Linked DNA regions of Homo sapiens. The protein of the gene in region 1 interacts with the protein of each later gene in a pairwise test. Each region holds a gene or a part of one and is shown on either strand. Other genes may lie near its edges.

Region 1 (3,500 bases):
GTAAACAAAATAGACAAAGGCCCTAATGTCATGGATTTCACATTCTAATAGAGGAGATAGAAAATAAACCTGCAGGCCGGGTACAGTGGCTCATGCCTGTAATCCCAGCACTTTGGGAGGCTGAGGCGGATGGATCACTTGAGGTCAGGAGCTTGAGACCAGCCTGGCCAACATGGCAAAACCCCATCTCTACTAAAAGTATAAAAATTAGCTGGGTGTGGTGGCACGTGCTTGTAGTCCCAGCTACTCGGGAGGCCGAGGCACAAGAATTGCTTGAACCCGGGAGGTGGAGCCAAAATTGTACCACTGCACTCCAGCCTGGGCAACAGAGCAAGACTTTGTCTCAAAAAAAAAAAAAGAAAAAAAACCAAAACCCTGCAAATCAACAGATGTGTAACATTGGGCAGTGGTAAGTGAAGGGATAGTGAGTGATTATGGGGAATGGGGTGCTAGTATTTCAGGCCAGGGTTAGGAAGGCTTCTGTAAGGAGGTGACATTTTTTTTCTTTTTACTTTTCTTTTTATTTTTTATTTTTATTTATTTATTATGAGGTGGAGTCTCACTCTTGTCGCCCAGGCTAGAGTGCAGTGTCACAATCTCGGCTCACTGCAACCTCCGCCTCCTGGGTTCAAGGTATTCTACTGCCTCAGCCTCCTGAGTAGCTGGGATTACAGGTGCCCGCCCCCATGCCTGGCTAATTTTTTTTTTTTTTTGTATTTTTAGTAGAGATGGGGTTTCACCACGTTGGCCAGGTTGGTTTCAAACTCCTGACCTCAAGTGATCCGCCCACCTCAGCCTCCCAAAATGCTGGGATTACAGGCATGAGCCACCGTGCCTGGCCTTTTTCTTTTTTAAAAAGAGACAGTCTCACTGTGTCACTAAGGTGGAGTGCAGTAGCATGATCACAGCTCACTGCAACCTCAAAGTCCTGGGCTTAAGCAATCCTCTTGCCTCAGTCTCCTGAGTAGCTGAGACTACAGGCATGTTCCACCATATCCGGCTAATTTAAAAGAAATTTTTTCGGCCAGGTGCTGTGGCTCACGCCTGTAATCCCAGCACTTTGGGAGGCTGAGGCGGGTGGATCATGAGGTCAGGAGTTTCAGACCAGCCTGACCAACATGGTGAAACCCCATCTGTACTAAAAATACAAAAATTAGCCAGGCATGGTGGCGTGCACCTGTAATCCCAGCTACTCAGGAGGCTGAGGCAGGAGAATCACGTGAACCTGGGAGGCGGAAGTTGCAGTGAGCCGAGATCGCACCACTGCGCTCCAGCCTGGCGACAGAGCAAGACTCAGTCTCAAAAAAAAAAAAAAAAAAAAAAAAAAATTCTAGAGACAAGGTCTCACTATGTTACCCAGGCTGGTCTCAAACTCCTGACCTCAAGCAGTCCTCCCACCTTGGCCTGAGCACCAGAATGAAGGGGAGAGTAAGGCAGTGGATCTTTGGGAAAGGAGTGTTCCAGGAAGAACAGAGATGCTTCTGGTTATTTTAGGAGGTCATGAAACTCTCAAAAATTGTCAAAACAGTTAGTCTTAATTTATCATAACCAAAAAGAAATTATACCTTACCTTATGGAAATAATAAAATTTAGCATCGTATTTTGATAAAATGTTACAACTCCAAAATGATCGGGAGTCTGTGGATAAGCCCATGCCTGTACCATGGCACCAGCTGTTATCTGGCTAAATATTTTGTAATCTATGTTGTAAAACTTCCTCTTCTGAAACTTCCCCTCAAAGTTGAACAAACACAAATTAGAACAACATGAGAGTGATTTAAGAAACATGGTTTCAGATTTACAAAAATACGTGGTAGCTCGTGGTAGCTCAGGGTTCATCCCCATCCTTCAACATCCCTCTTGAAATCAGAATGGGATTATTTTTATATTTTTCTTCCAATTCCTTATTGTGTATAGAGAATGGATACTGTTTTGAAAGCAAAATGTTGGAAACTGAGCATGATGCTAAGATGCCTTTATAAAAACATGAAGATGCCAGGTGCGGTGGCTCATGCCTGTAATCCCAGCACTTTGGGAGACTGGGGTGGGTGGATCATGAGGTCAGGAGTTTGAGACCAGCCTGGCCAAGATGGTGAAACCCCGTCTCTACTAAAAATACAAAAAAATTAGCTGGGCATGGTGGCAGGTGCCTGTAATCCCAGCTACTTGGGAGGCTGAGGCAGGAGAATCACTTGAACCTGGGAGGCGGAGGTTGCAGTGAGCCAAGATCACACCACTGCACTCTAGCCTGGGCAACAGAGCAAGACTCCATCTCAAACAAACAAACAAACAGCATGAAGAAACACTGGGGTATAAATAAGATTTAAATAGTAATAGTATGAGTTCCCATTTTGTTGGGTTATGAACTTTTCTTTTTATTAAAGTTGGCCCTATCACTAATAGATAATTTCCAAAATACCACACATTTAATGGCTTAAAACAACACAAATTTATTATTTTACAGTTCTGTAGGTCAGAAGTCCCAAACAGGCTACGTCTGGTAGCTGATGCCTATAATCCCAGCATTTTGGGAGGCCGAGGTGGGAGAATCACTTGAGGCCAGGAGTTCGACACCAGCCTGGTCAACATAGAAAGACCACACTCCACAAAAAAAAGTTTAAAAATTAGCAGGTGTAGTAGTGTGCACCTGTAGTCCCAGCTACTTGAGAAGCTGATGCAGGAGCACTGCAGCCTGAGCAATAAAGCAAGACCCTCTCTCTGTGGGAAAAAAAGTCCCAAATAAATTTCAGTGGGCTAAAGCCAGGGTGTTGGCAGGGTGCGTTCCTTCTGGAGGTTCAGTGGGAAGACTCTACTCCTTTGCCTTTTCTAGCTCCAGAGGCTACTGCATTCCTTGGCTCATGGCCCCCTCCCCATCTTCAAAGCCAACGATGGCTGAGTCTTTCTCACATCATATCACTCTAACATTTACCTTCTCGTCTCCCTCTTTCATGTATAAGGACTCTTATGAGTACACTGGACTCACTTGGATAATCCAGAGTACTCTCCCATCTCAAAATCCTTAATCTCATCACATCTGCAAAGTTCCTTTTGCCATGTGTTCACAGCTTCTGGGAATTGGCATGTGGACATCATATTCTGCCTACCACAAGTATTAATAGAACAGAACTTGTCACTGCCAACCCAGAGTCACTCTGCCCTCCTTGGAAGCCTGTATCATCAATCACAGTACAAACATGATTTAGGTTTTGCCTTAGATACTGTCATGTTAATGAAATTTCAGAATAGCAAAGAAAGTTGTTTTGAGAAATATTTTTTCAAAGCAAACATTCTTCTCAATAAAATTTTTTTTTTACTTCCTATACTCTTGCTTATAACTTGCCACTTTAATTTTTTTTTTTTTTTTTTTTTTTACTGCCGTTGAGGCAGAAAGGAAAATGAAGCTCTTAGGAAGCTCAATTTAAATTCTCAGTTGATCACATTAAGGAGCAAATAATTGAAGTTACAGGACTCTTCTAGTCATTCTTTTTGGAAAGAAATTA
Region 2 (3,500 bases), on another chromosome or scaffold:
TCCTAAGTCAAAAGAACAAAGCTGGAGGCATCATGCTACCTAACTTCAAACTATACTACAAGGCTACAGTAACCAAAACAGCATGCTACTGGTACCAAAACAGAGATACAGACCAATGGAACAGAACAGAGCCCTCAGAAATAATGCCACATATCTACAACTATCTGATCTTTGACAAACCTGACAAAAACAAGAAATGGGGAAACCATTCCCTATTTAATAAATGGTGCTGGGAAAACTGGCTAGCCATACGCAGAAAGCTGAAACTGGATCCCTTCCTTACACCTTATACAAAAATTAATTCAAGATGGATTAAAGACTTAAATGTTATACCTAAAACCATAAAAACCCTAGAAGAAAACCTAGGCAATACCATTCAGGACATAGGCATGGGCAAGGACTTCATGTCTAAAACACCAAAAGCAATGGCAACAAAAGCCAAAATTGACAAATGGGATCTAATTAAACTAAAGAGCTTCTGCACAGCAAAAGAAACTACCATCAGAGTGAACAGGCAACCTACAGAATGGGAGAACATTTTTGCAATCCACTCATCTGACAAAGGGCTAATATCCAGAATCTACAATGAACTCAAACACATTTACAAGAAAAAAACAACCCCATCAACAAGTGGGCGAAGGATATGAACAGACACTTCTCAAAAGAAGACATTTATGCAGCCAAAAGACACATGAAAAAATGCTCATCATCACTGGCCGTCAGAGAAATGCAAATCAAAACCACAGTGAGATACCATCTCACACCAGTTAGAATGGCAATCATTAAAAAGTCAGGAAACAACAGGTGCTGGAGAGGATGTGGAGAAATAGGAACACTTTTACACTGTTGGTGGGACTGTAAACTAGTTCAACTATTGTGGAAGTCAGTGTGGCGATTCCTCAGGGATCTCAAAGTAGAAATACCATTTGACCCAGCCATCCCATTACTGGGTATATACCCAAAGGATTATAGATCATGCTGCTATAAAGACACATGCTGCTATAAAGACACATATGTTTATTGCGGCACTGTTCACAATAGCAAGGACTTGGAACCAACCCAAATGTCCAACAATGATAGACTGGATTAAGAAAATGTGGCACATATACACCATGGAATACTATGCAGTGATAAAAAAGGATGAGTTCATGTCCTTTGTAGGGACATGGATGAAGCTGGAAACCATCATTCTCAGCAAACTATCGCAACGACAAAAAACCAAACACTGCATGTTCTCACTCATAGGTGGGAACTGAACAGTGAGAACACATGGACACAGGAAGGGGAACATCACACACTGGGGCCTGTTGTGGGGTGGGGGGAGGGGGGAGGGATAGCATTAGGTGATATATCTAATGTTAAATGACGAGTTAATGGGTGCAGCACACCAACATGGTCCATGTATACATATGTAACAAACCTGCACGTTGTGCACATGTACCCTAGAACTTAAAGTATAATAAAAATAATAATAAATGTAAACAAGTAATCAGTTATTATTCTATTTTCTTGATGAGAAAACCAAGAGTTAAAGGGAATGTTCCTTGCCACTTCCTTGTAAGTGGCAGGACTTAGACCAGACCTTCCAACATTAGCTTCTAAATCCAGGCACTTATCCTTCTATATAAGGTATAAAACCATAGGAATGCCTCTTTATTCACAAAGATAAAAGATTATTTTAAAACCTCCTTTAGTTTAGTGGACCAATATTTTAGAGAGCACCCTGCAATGAGAAAGATGCTGGATTTGGAGTCAGCCAGTTCCAGGTTTATACCCCAGCTGAATGACCCCAGGCATCAAATATGTTATTCTTTGTTTCCTTAAGAATTAAATGGAGGGAATAAATCTGCTTTGTGAGATCATGATGAAGATAAAGTTTATAGATAAAGTACGTAAAATGTTTAATATGGTGCCTGGTGTATAGTAGGCATCAAATAAGTATTATTACACCACCAGTATAGGTAACTTTTCGCATATAAAAATAATTATATTCTTGGATCCGAACATAGCTACAGAGCACTTTAATTTCTAAATGAGCCTTACAAACTAACTACAGGGAGCCAGCACATATTCCTGCAAAGCCCCGTGTGCCTGGTTACTCACGGCCAGCTGTTGCTCCAGAGATTTCACTTGGTGCTGCAGAGTGTCAATCAGCTGGCTCTGCCTCTTGGTGGGGTTCCCACTTGTGTAGGTGAGTTGGGAAAGGCCATTGAGTGCCTGTTTTAATCTTTCCACATCATTAAGCAGTTCAGTTATCTTTAAAAAAATGTTGTAGGAGAAATATATTATTCACTTATCATGTACAATGAACATCTTTGTACAGAAATCATTCCTTTTTGGAGACAGAAGCTTTATCTTTATACACCAGAAAATTGAGGTATGAATATTGCCAAGACTGTTACCAAGGATGTATACAATATGTAATTTATAATTAAATCCCTCTCCAGAAATTATTTACAAAAGCAATACCAAATTAAGAATAAATATTACATATATCCTAAGATGTGAGTATAAACATAGTCTTACTTTTAGCTAATATATAAGCATCTACGAAGGCACATGAACTATCTTCCAGGTAACATATGGAACACAGGAAGGGAAGGGGGATTCCCAGCAACAAAGTGTGAAAAGTAAAAGGGTGTGGCCCGTGTAAGTCTAGGATTAACATATGTTCCTTTTTCCTTTCAAGAGTTGTATTATTTAAGACCACTTTGTTGTAGAGAGAAAAAAAACAAGGAGGCTTGTTTATAGGAATAGGAAGTGCCTAGAAACATAGCATTTTTCCACCCTGCTTTAAAGTCAGACAGAGTCAACTTGTATGAGCTTGGCTAATTTACTTTTCTGAGCCTTAGATTCCACATTGGTGAAAGGTGGACAATCTTTCAGAGTTAAGAAAATCAGGTTGGGCACAGTGGCTCACACCTATAGTCCCAACACTTTGGGAGGCTAAGGCAGGAAGATTGTTTAAACTCAGGAATTCAAGACCAGCCTGGGCAATAGAGCAAGATACCATCTCCTCCCCCACAAAATTTTTTATTGAAAAATAATAATAGAAAAAAAACAAAGAAAATGAAATGCAATTACATGCACCCGCTCAATAAATGGCAACAAGTAGATATTAATAATTAACTCTTATATATTACTATATATATTCATAGGTACCTTCTGAACAAGCTTAGAGCATTTAAATTCTCAATCACAGAGATGGTGTGCCAGAGGACAGTATGTACAAGTACTTTCCACTGGGGAGGGCAGTCTGTGTCTGTGTTTACTCCACTGTATCCCCAGCACATGACATGCAGAAGGCATTTAATCATTACATGTTGAATGGATAAAACTGCAGCCAATCTTTATATGTCATATCCATAGTAAAAACTTTATGCAACATCAGTGTCAAAAATATTGTTGAGTACCTATTCTGTAAATTGTACCATGAGAATTAAAGCTAAGATGGAAAGTTAAGTTATAAACCCTGCTCATAAAAACTGATTGGGAAGATC
Region 3 (3,500 bases), on another chromosome or scaffold:
AGAGAACACTTGGTCCAACACATAAAAAGGGTGATAATATTTTAGAGAGTTTGGGTAGACTTGAATATTATTTGTTTAGAACCTGAATCTCAAGTCTAAGTCTGTAACAAGATTTCTCTTCCAGATGATGAGGAGTCTGATGAGGAAGCTGTGAAGAAAACCAACAAATGTGTACTAGTCTGGGAGGTAGGTGATCCTTTGTAAAACATTGTAAAACTTTAGCCAACTCCTGAATATTTATACTATTTGAGTGGAGCAATGGAATGTAAGATGTAATCAGTGAATAATGTTTTAAATAATTTATGTTTCTTTTTGGAATCCATTTTTAAATGGTTGGCAGTAAATTCTTCCTGATCATCTGTTTAATTAAATTCGTGAGTATTTAGTATATGCTATCTGGGGAAGTGCGTGGACAGTGCTGCTGGTAGCAGGAATACAAATTCTCTACCGAAAATTATTTATTTCACAGTCATGAATATGAGACTTGGAAACGGGAATGAATTGTTGTTGGATTTACCTTTGGATATAGTGAAGGAAGTACTAGACTTAAGAATATAAAGTTAGGAGGCTGGGCAGTGCTGCTTATTAGCTGTGCAATCTGGGCAAGACACTTAATGTCAAATTCTGTTGCCTTAGCTATTGTTCTCTATATTGTCAAGTTTTTGAGAATGAAATTAGATAATTATGTGATAGTGCTTCATAAAATGTGACTGAATCACTCTTCAAGTGGAATATTTTTTATGGTTATCTAGTTCTTTAACCCCTGAAGCCTTCTTAGAGAACCAGTATTAAAACCAGTATTAATGTTTTCATGTTTGCTTTTAGGTATAGTACATGTATATCTTTTTTTGGGGGCGGGGGGGCGGGGGGCGGTATGGAGTTTCGCTCTTGTTGCTCTTGTTGCCCAGGCTGGAGTGCGATGGCGTGATCTCGGCTCACCGCAACCTCTACCTCCCAGGTTCAAACGATTCTCCTGCCTCAGCCTCCCAAGTAGCTGGGATTACAGGTGCACGCCACCATGCCCGACTAATTTTTGTATTTATAGTAGAGACAGGGTTTCTCCATGTTGGTCAGGCTGGTCTTGAACTCCCAACCTCAGGTGATCCGCCTGCCTCGGCCTCCCAAAGTGCTGGGATTACAGGCATGAGCCACTGTGCCCAGCCCCTCCATTTCTTTTTTTTTTTTTTTGAGAGAGTTTTGCCCTTGTTACCCAGGCTGGAGTGCAATGGTGCAATCTCAGCTCACCGCAACCACCGCCTCCTGGGTTCAAGTGATTCTCCTGCCTCGGCCTCCCGAGTAGCTGGAATTACAGGCATGAGCCACCACGCCTGGCTAATTTTGTATTTTTAGTAGAGACGGGGTTTCGCCATATTGGTCAAGCTGGTCTCGAACTCCTGACCTGAGGTCCGACTGCCTTGGCCTCCCAAAGTGCTGGGATTACAGGCATGAGTCACTGCGCCCGGCCATATATCTTCTATTTTTAAAATGTGCTTATTTCTAGTATATGTGCTGCTGAAGCGAGCAGTAAAATGTGCTTATTTCTATTAATGAATTCTTTATTATAAAAGTGGTACATTATTACAAAAGTAGTAAATGTTTATTAAGATTAGAAACAAATTCTAATTATACAGAAGAGTACTTACTGAGACCCAGCACAGTGGCTCACGCCTATAATCCCAGCACTTTGGGAGGATGAGGTGGTTGGATCACTTGAGCTCAGGAGTTCAAGACCAGCCTGGGCAATATGGCGAAACCCCGTCTCTACAAAAAATACAAAAATTAGCCTGGCCTGGTGGCGTCTGCCTGTAGTCCCAGCTACTTGAGAGGCTGAGGTGGGAAGATTGCTTCAGCTTTGGAGTTTGAAGCTGCAGTGAGCTGTGACTATGCCACTGCACTCCAGCCTGGGCACCAGAGTGAAACCCTGTCTTAAAAAAAAAAAAGAAAAAGTCTCAGGCCAGGTGCAGTGGCTCATGCCTATACTCCCAACACTTTGGGAGGCTGAGGTGGGCGGATTACGAGGTCAGGAATTCGAGACTAACCTGGCCAACATGGTGAAACCCAGTCTCTACTAAAAATACAAAAATTAGTGGGGCGTGGTGGCCAGTGCCTATAATCCCAGCTACTTGGGAGGCTGAGGCAGGAGAATCGCTTGAATCTGGGAAGCGGAGGTTGCAGTGAGCCGAGATCGCACCATTGCACTCCAGCCTGGGTGACAGTGCGAGACTGTGTCTCAAAACAAAAGTCTCTTCCTATTCGCTGATCTCTTCAGACCAGTCTTTATAGGTAATTGCTATTAATAGTTTTTCTTCTGAAGGAGCAATCAAAAAATAAAAATTAAAAAAAAAGGTTTTCATGTATCCTGCCTTATCCCAGATTCTTCAATTTATGCATACAAATTAGATGATAATAACCATAGTATTTGTTCTCTGTTTTATAAGTTCCCACCTGCATATTTGTTATCTTTTTTTAATCAACTTTTTTTTTTAGAGATAGGGTCTTGCTCTATTGCTCAGGCTGGTGTGCAGTGGCGCAGTCATAGCTCGCTACAGCCTTGAACTCCTAGGGACAAGCAATCCTCCAGTCTCAGCTTCTCAAGTATCTGAGACCTCAGGTCCACACCACTGTGCCTGGCTAATTTTTTTTTTTTTTTTTTTTTTTTTTAGAAATGGATCTCACTATGTTGCCTAGGCTTGTCTTGAACTCTTAGCCTTGAGTGATCCTCCCACCTCAGCCTCCCAAAGTGCTGGGATTATAGGCATGAGCTACTGTGCCCAGCCCTACCTTCACATATCTCAGCACCCTCATCTTTCAATTTTCTTCTATTTATCTCTGAAGAGTACTTACTGAAAAAGTCCCGGCTTCTTAGAGAACCAGTATTAATGTTGTAGGAATTTAGTTTTCAGGAATTGTCTCTCATGTTCAGAAATAAGCCAAGTTCTGCTCCAGCCTCCTTATTGGAGTCTACTCCCTGAACGCCTCTTGAGGTATTGCTTTATGACTGCCATTGCTGCTGGTAACTTTGGCAAGAATGCCATTCTGCCCAGTACTGTCTTTTTCTGTTGTAATTCTCTGCTGGTACCTGCTCTTCTTCTGTTCCCCGCCCCCAGTTGTTCTTTGTTGCTGGGCCCCAAAGCCTCCTGCTTATATAAATAGTTTCTGGGGCCTTTTTGAAGGCTCAGATTTAGTCCTTAAGGCCTGGTAGGAGATAAGTTTATCTCATTCCACCTTCCATAGTTCTTCCTGACTTGCTGTTCCACCCAGGCACCAGAGCAAATAATTCCTCACTTCATTTCAAAAAACTAAAAGCCTTATGCATATGAATTCGTAAAATCTCATACAAATATCCAAGGAGGCCGGGCGCGGTGGCTCACGCCTATAATCCCAGCACTTTGGGAGGCTGAGGCGGGAGGATCACGAGGTCAGGAGATCGAGACCATCCTGGCTAACACGGTGAAACCCCGTCTCTACTAGAAATACAAAAAATCAGCTGGGCGTGGTAG
Region 4 (4,113 bases), on another chromosome or scaffold:
TAATCAGGAGAGCTGTGTTTTAATACGAGCTTTGACAGTATATACTTCTCTGTGCTTTAGTCACCTCTGCTGAACAACCAGGGGCGTGAATTGGGTTTTTTTCTAAAGGTCTTTTTTTAGTTCTAATATTTTGTGATTATGGATGGTAAAATAATTCATATGAAAACCAGCTGAGCCACTCACCAGTCAGCATGAACTGATAGGCATTGTCAGAGATGGAGAAGATGTGGGGTGGGGCCTCCTGGCGCTTTTTGCCTCGGTAGGCTGTCACCACCTCTGCATTATACACTGGCAACCACTTGTAGGGGTTGACAGTGACACAGAACAAGCCTGAGTAGGTCTGCACCCAAAACAAAAGGGAGGAACAGAATTATTTGATGGGGACCTTAATCATCTACTACTTTTCAAAAACTATTAACTACTCTCATGAGTAGAAGACCGTGAGAAAGAACTCACGTAGATCATCCAGGCTGCGTAGCGCTCTTTGAGGTTGTACAGCACAGCAGGCTCGTGTAGATGAGTCATCATGGCCATGTCCTCGATCTTGTCATATTTGGGAGGGTTCATGGGGAAGACTTGGTCATCTTTCACTGTTACAGTCTGTCCAGTCAAACAAGAGAGGCCAGATCAAAAAGTAAGTGCTAACTTAACCCAAAATGAGGCAGAGTCTAATCAGCTCCAGGTGTTTTTACTCACAGCTCCAGCTTCGGTCTTAGCTGTCACCTTCCCCCCTTCCCTGCTCTGCACTGTTGCTTTCACAAAGGACTCCTTAGGGTCCACCACAAAGACTGATGTCTTGGCATCAAAAGGCTTGTTCTGGGCTTCAATTCGCTCCCTTTCAGACTTTCGGAGGAAAGGAGCAGCCTCCCCAAAAATGGCCATCTCAGAGTCGGAACTCATGGCTGCAGGTTATTGATGGTAGCCCAGTTAAGGACCCTGGCTGGGAGAGGAAGAAAAGAAATTGTAGAAATTAAGAAACTGGACCATTAGATTCACATTTAAAACTTTAAAAAAAAATTTACTGACCAATTGAGTGCTTAGCATTGCATTGGGTATGACCACCTCCCTGGCTTGGTTGAGGATAAAATGTCAGTCTCCTTGTTCTGTGCCAGTGCTGACAGACACTTAATCATGCATTTGGAAAGAGACTGTTGTTTCTGGCTCACCTATTGCAGTCTCTTAGCTGCTTTCTCTGTTTCATTTGTTAGGTATATTAATCTTTATAAGCTGCCTATCATTGGCTTATAGAGAACATAAAGCTATAATGGTGGCAGGATAGTCTCCAGTTCTTTCACTTATAGTTTTTATCTTCCCAACTGGATTATAAGCACCTTGCAGGCAGGGAGCACTCTTCTTTTTATGGTATCCTTCACACCTCTTAGAACAAATGCTGGACACAGAGAAAGGCTCAAAGCTGGCTTGGTGAATTAAAAGAACAATAGGAATATGTTGCTATAATTTTAGGAACTATTCTGTACATGACAGAAATATTTTCATTATAAACTTGGGAGTTACGAAGACTTCCTAATATACAGGAAAGCAGAAATGTGTGGCTCTTTGTTTTGCATTGTTAAAAAATGTTCTGTTATCCATCAATTTCTGTTGTCTCTGTATAATAATTTTGACAAACTCAACTTCTTCACTGATCTTTAGCATTTCTTAAATATTTATTATAAAACGTTATTACCTATGTTTTCTTGCTCTATTATTAACATTTTTATAACAATTTCACAAAACTTGTTCTTTTCAGGATCCCCCTCTTGCCACATTAGCTAGCATTCATTAATGCTGTCAATAATCTTCATGTATATTCTACTTTATAATAATAAAGATACCTTTTCCAGGGAAGCTCATTTGGATACATTTCTCCCATTGAAACTATGTTGACTCAGATAACATAATTAAAATGCTTCATCTTGCTGAATATGCTGACAATCATGTTTCGTATTGTGTGTGTGTATATATACATATGTGTGTGTGTGTGTGTATATATTCGTTAATTTTTATTTTATAGATTGTGAAACAACATGCAGTTAAGCAACTTTTTCCAAGGCAAAGATTCAGACCATTCTATTTATCCAATTAGACATCATCTCTCATAGGTTTTTATATTTATAGTGCTGAGGAAAAGCCATGGTATAGAAAATTTAAATTTTCTCTATAATTGAGTAACACTTTGAAATGTTACATTGCATATTGTAATGCAGTCATTTAAAAGATAAACTACAATGCTGGAAATAGTGAATGAAATTCACTATTGTGAATAAAATTCCCAAGGACTCTGAGAAAGCATTTTCATATATTGCGAGGGATATGAGTTAAGGAGAACCAGTTTCTAAAGTCATTCTCCATTTTTTAAGAGAAGCGTGATCAACCATGAAATGGAAATGATTTTTTTTATCACTTCCCTCACCCCGCCCCTCACCACTGTCCAAACCACTGCAGAAGATTCCTTGCACTCTGTGAGGAATGAGAAAAAAAAAAATCAGAATCTTACCGTAGAGATGCGACCTTAAAGTGGATCAGAACTGTAAGAAAAAGAGCAAACCTCTTCTGATTAAATTATAACAATTCCCGATTATAGAACAATTCTTAACTGAGAACCAGGAAATGACTGGGAAGACTACAACATCTAATTAAAATTGCTACGGAGTAAGCTGGTGCTTCACTGGCAGGGCTGCCAGGGACAGTGGGAGCCAGGATGTGTGGCATGCACGCGGGCAGCCAGACATCCCTTACCGTCCTCCAGACAGAGCCCTGTCCTCACACACACTTACCTTGAAGCTTTATGAGGAGAGACAAGTCATACTCATTCCAAGGGTACTTTTATAGGCTCAAATATGGAAAACACGTAACCTCCTCCTCTTTCTTAAAACATATTTGGCAAAACATGTTTTTGGCATTGAAGGTCTCCAAGCCTAATTCCCCTCATATTAAAGATGTTTGGATATAATTAGAAATATTTCCTCTCATATTGGGTTAAGTATATGAATCAATCTCCTATAAATAATTTGAGTCGTTGGCAATCTTAAAGTTGTTGGCCTTTGGAATGTAAGGTGTTGTTTCAAAGACAGCTAAGTTCTGGAATCCCTGGACTTTGTTGCCTACTGCTCTTCTGTTTCACAGAGTCGCCTGTGTGAAGTCTTTTCAACTGCCTGCGCAGTTACAGATAGTGTACTCGGGAGGAAAACTTCTGCTCTTTAGCAGAGGGTTATAAAAACGTTGCTTTCTCTCAAAAAGATTTCCTTTTTTTTTTTTTTTTTTTTTTTGCAATTTATTGTGCTTTTTCAAAGTTGCTTGGAAATTTAATTTTGAAACTTGCTTCATGAAGAGCAGCCAAAGATAGCTTCTTTTGTTTCCTTCAATCAGTCGCCTCTTATTCATTGTCAAATCATTCCACCGGCACTTCGGACTTGCTCCGAAATTGCATTGCCTTCCAAACAGAGATGTCCTGCTTCTCTCATTTTTTTTTGGTGCCCAAGTTGCTTGTGAAATCTTGTTTCCTCTATGAAACTCAACATAAGAAAATATTGGAAACAGGGTATTTCTCTGTCTAAATATGCAGCATCGATGATTTTTCCTCTATCAGCAGTCCATGGGATATATTTAGTATTTTGCTTACAAACAATACCTGAATATTGTTTTCTATTTTAATTTTTTAAAAAAGTTTATTTTACTGTCTTTGTGGCCTCACGTCTCTGTCTGTCAGCATTGTCTGGCTAGGACTGGGACAACATTTGCTTAATATACCTGGTTTTGCACCCACATCTGTATTATTGTACTTATATCTCAATTGATTTAATGGCTATAGCTTGCCTTATGAAAGGAGATATCTGGATATACTAGTTGTAAAGGTCACATAGTTTTATTACCATAAGGGATCATCTAATTCATCTTTCTCATTTTACTAATAAAGCAACTGAGATCCAAAAAATAGAAGAGAATCTCCACAAATCACACAGCAGTTTAGACTCTGGTCATCTGACTTGCGGTCCAGCGTACTCACTTGTGACACTCTTCTACCTGGGGTAGATTAAAGCCATCAGGAAGGGTATTGCAGGGATGTGCGTCTGAGAGGGCCTTTCCTAGCCATCTATTAGCCTGCTTTGTTAC

Evidence for each region.
Region 2: the proteins of CCDC125 (region 1) and UACA interact in binary tests that used the Homo sapiens proteins (3 or more experiments, as listed by UniProt).
Region 3: the proteins of CCDC125 (region 1) and PRPF3 interact in binary tests that used the Homo sapiens proteins (3 or more experiments, as listed by UniProt).
Region 4: the proteins of CCDC125 (region 1) and MYH1 interact in binary tests that used the Homo sapiens proteins (3 or more experiments, as listed by UniProt).

Annotation. Positions count from the first base shown.
Region 1 is NC_000005.10:69,315,802-69,319,301, reverse strand, and holds part of CCDC125 (coiled-coil domain-containing protein 125), read left to right. Parts: intron 1-3,500. UniProt on the Homo sapiens protein: May be involved in the regulation of cell migration.
Region 2 is NC_000015.10:70,662,559-70,666,058, forward strand, and holds part of UACA (uveal autoantigen with coiled-coil domains and ankyrin repeats), read right to left. Parts: intron 2,257-3,500; coding exon 2,104-2,256; intron 1-2,103. UniProt on the Homo sapiens protein: Regulates APAF1 expression and plays an important role in the regulation of stress-induced apoptosis. Promotes apoptosis by regulating three pathways, apoptosome up-regulation, LGALS3/galectin-3 down-regulation and NF-kappa-B inactivation.
Region 3 is NC_000001.11:150,349,033-150,352,532, forward strand, and holds part of PRPF3 (U4/U6 small nuclear ribonucleoprotein Prp3), read left to right. Parts: intron 1-124; coding exon 125-186; intron 187-3,500. UniProt on the Homo sapiens protein: Plays a role in pre-mRNA splicing as component of the U4/U6-U5 tri-snRNP complex that is involved in spliceosome assembly, and as component of the precatalytic spliceosome (spliceosome B complex).
Region 4 is NC_000017.11:10,515,743-10,519,855, forward strand, and holds the start of MYH1 (myosin-1), read right to left. Parts: upstream 2,801-4,113; 5' UTR 2,778-2,800; intron 2,529-2,777; 5' UTR 2,498-2,528; intron 941-2,497; 5' UTR 901-940; coding exon 697-900; intron 601-696; coding exon 457-600; intron 341-456; coding exon 184-340; intron 1-183. UniProt on the Homo sapiens protein: Required for normal hearing. It plays a role in cochlear amplification of auditory stimuli, likely through the positive regulation of prestin (SLC26A5) activity and outer hair cell (OHC) electromotility.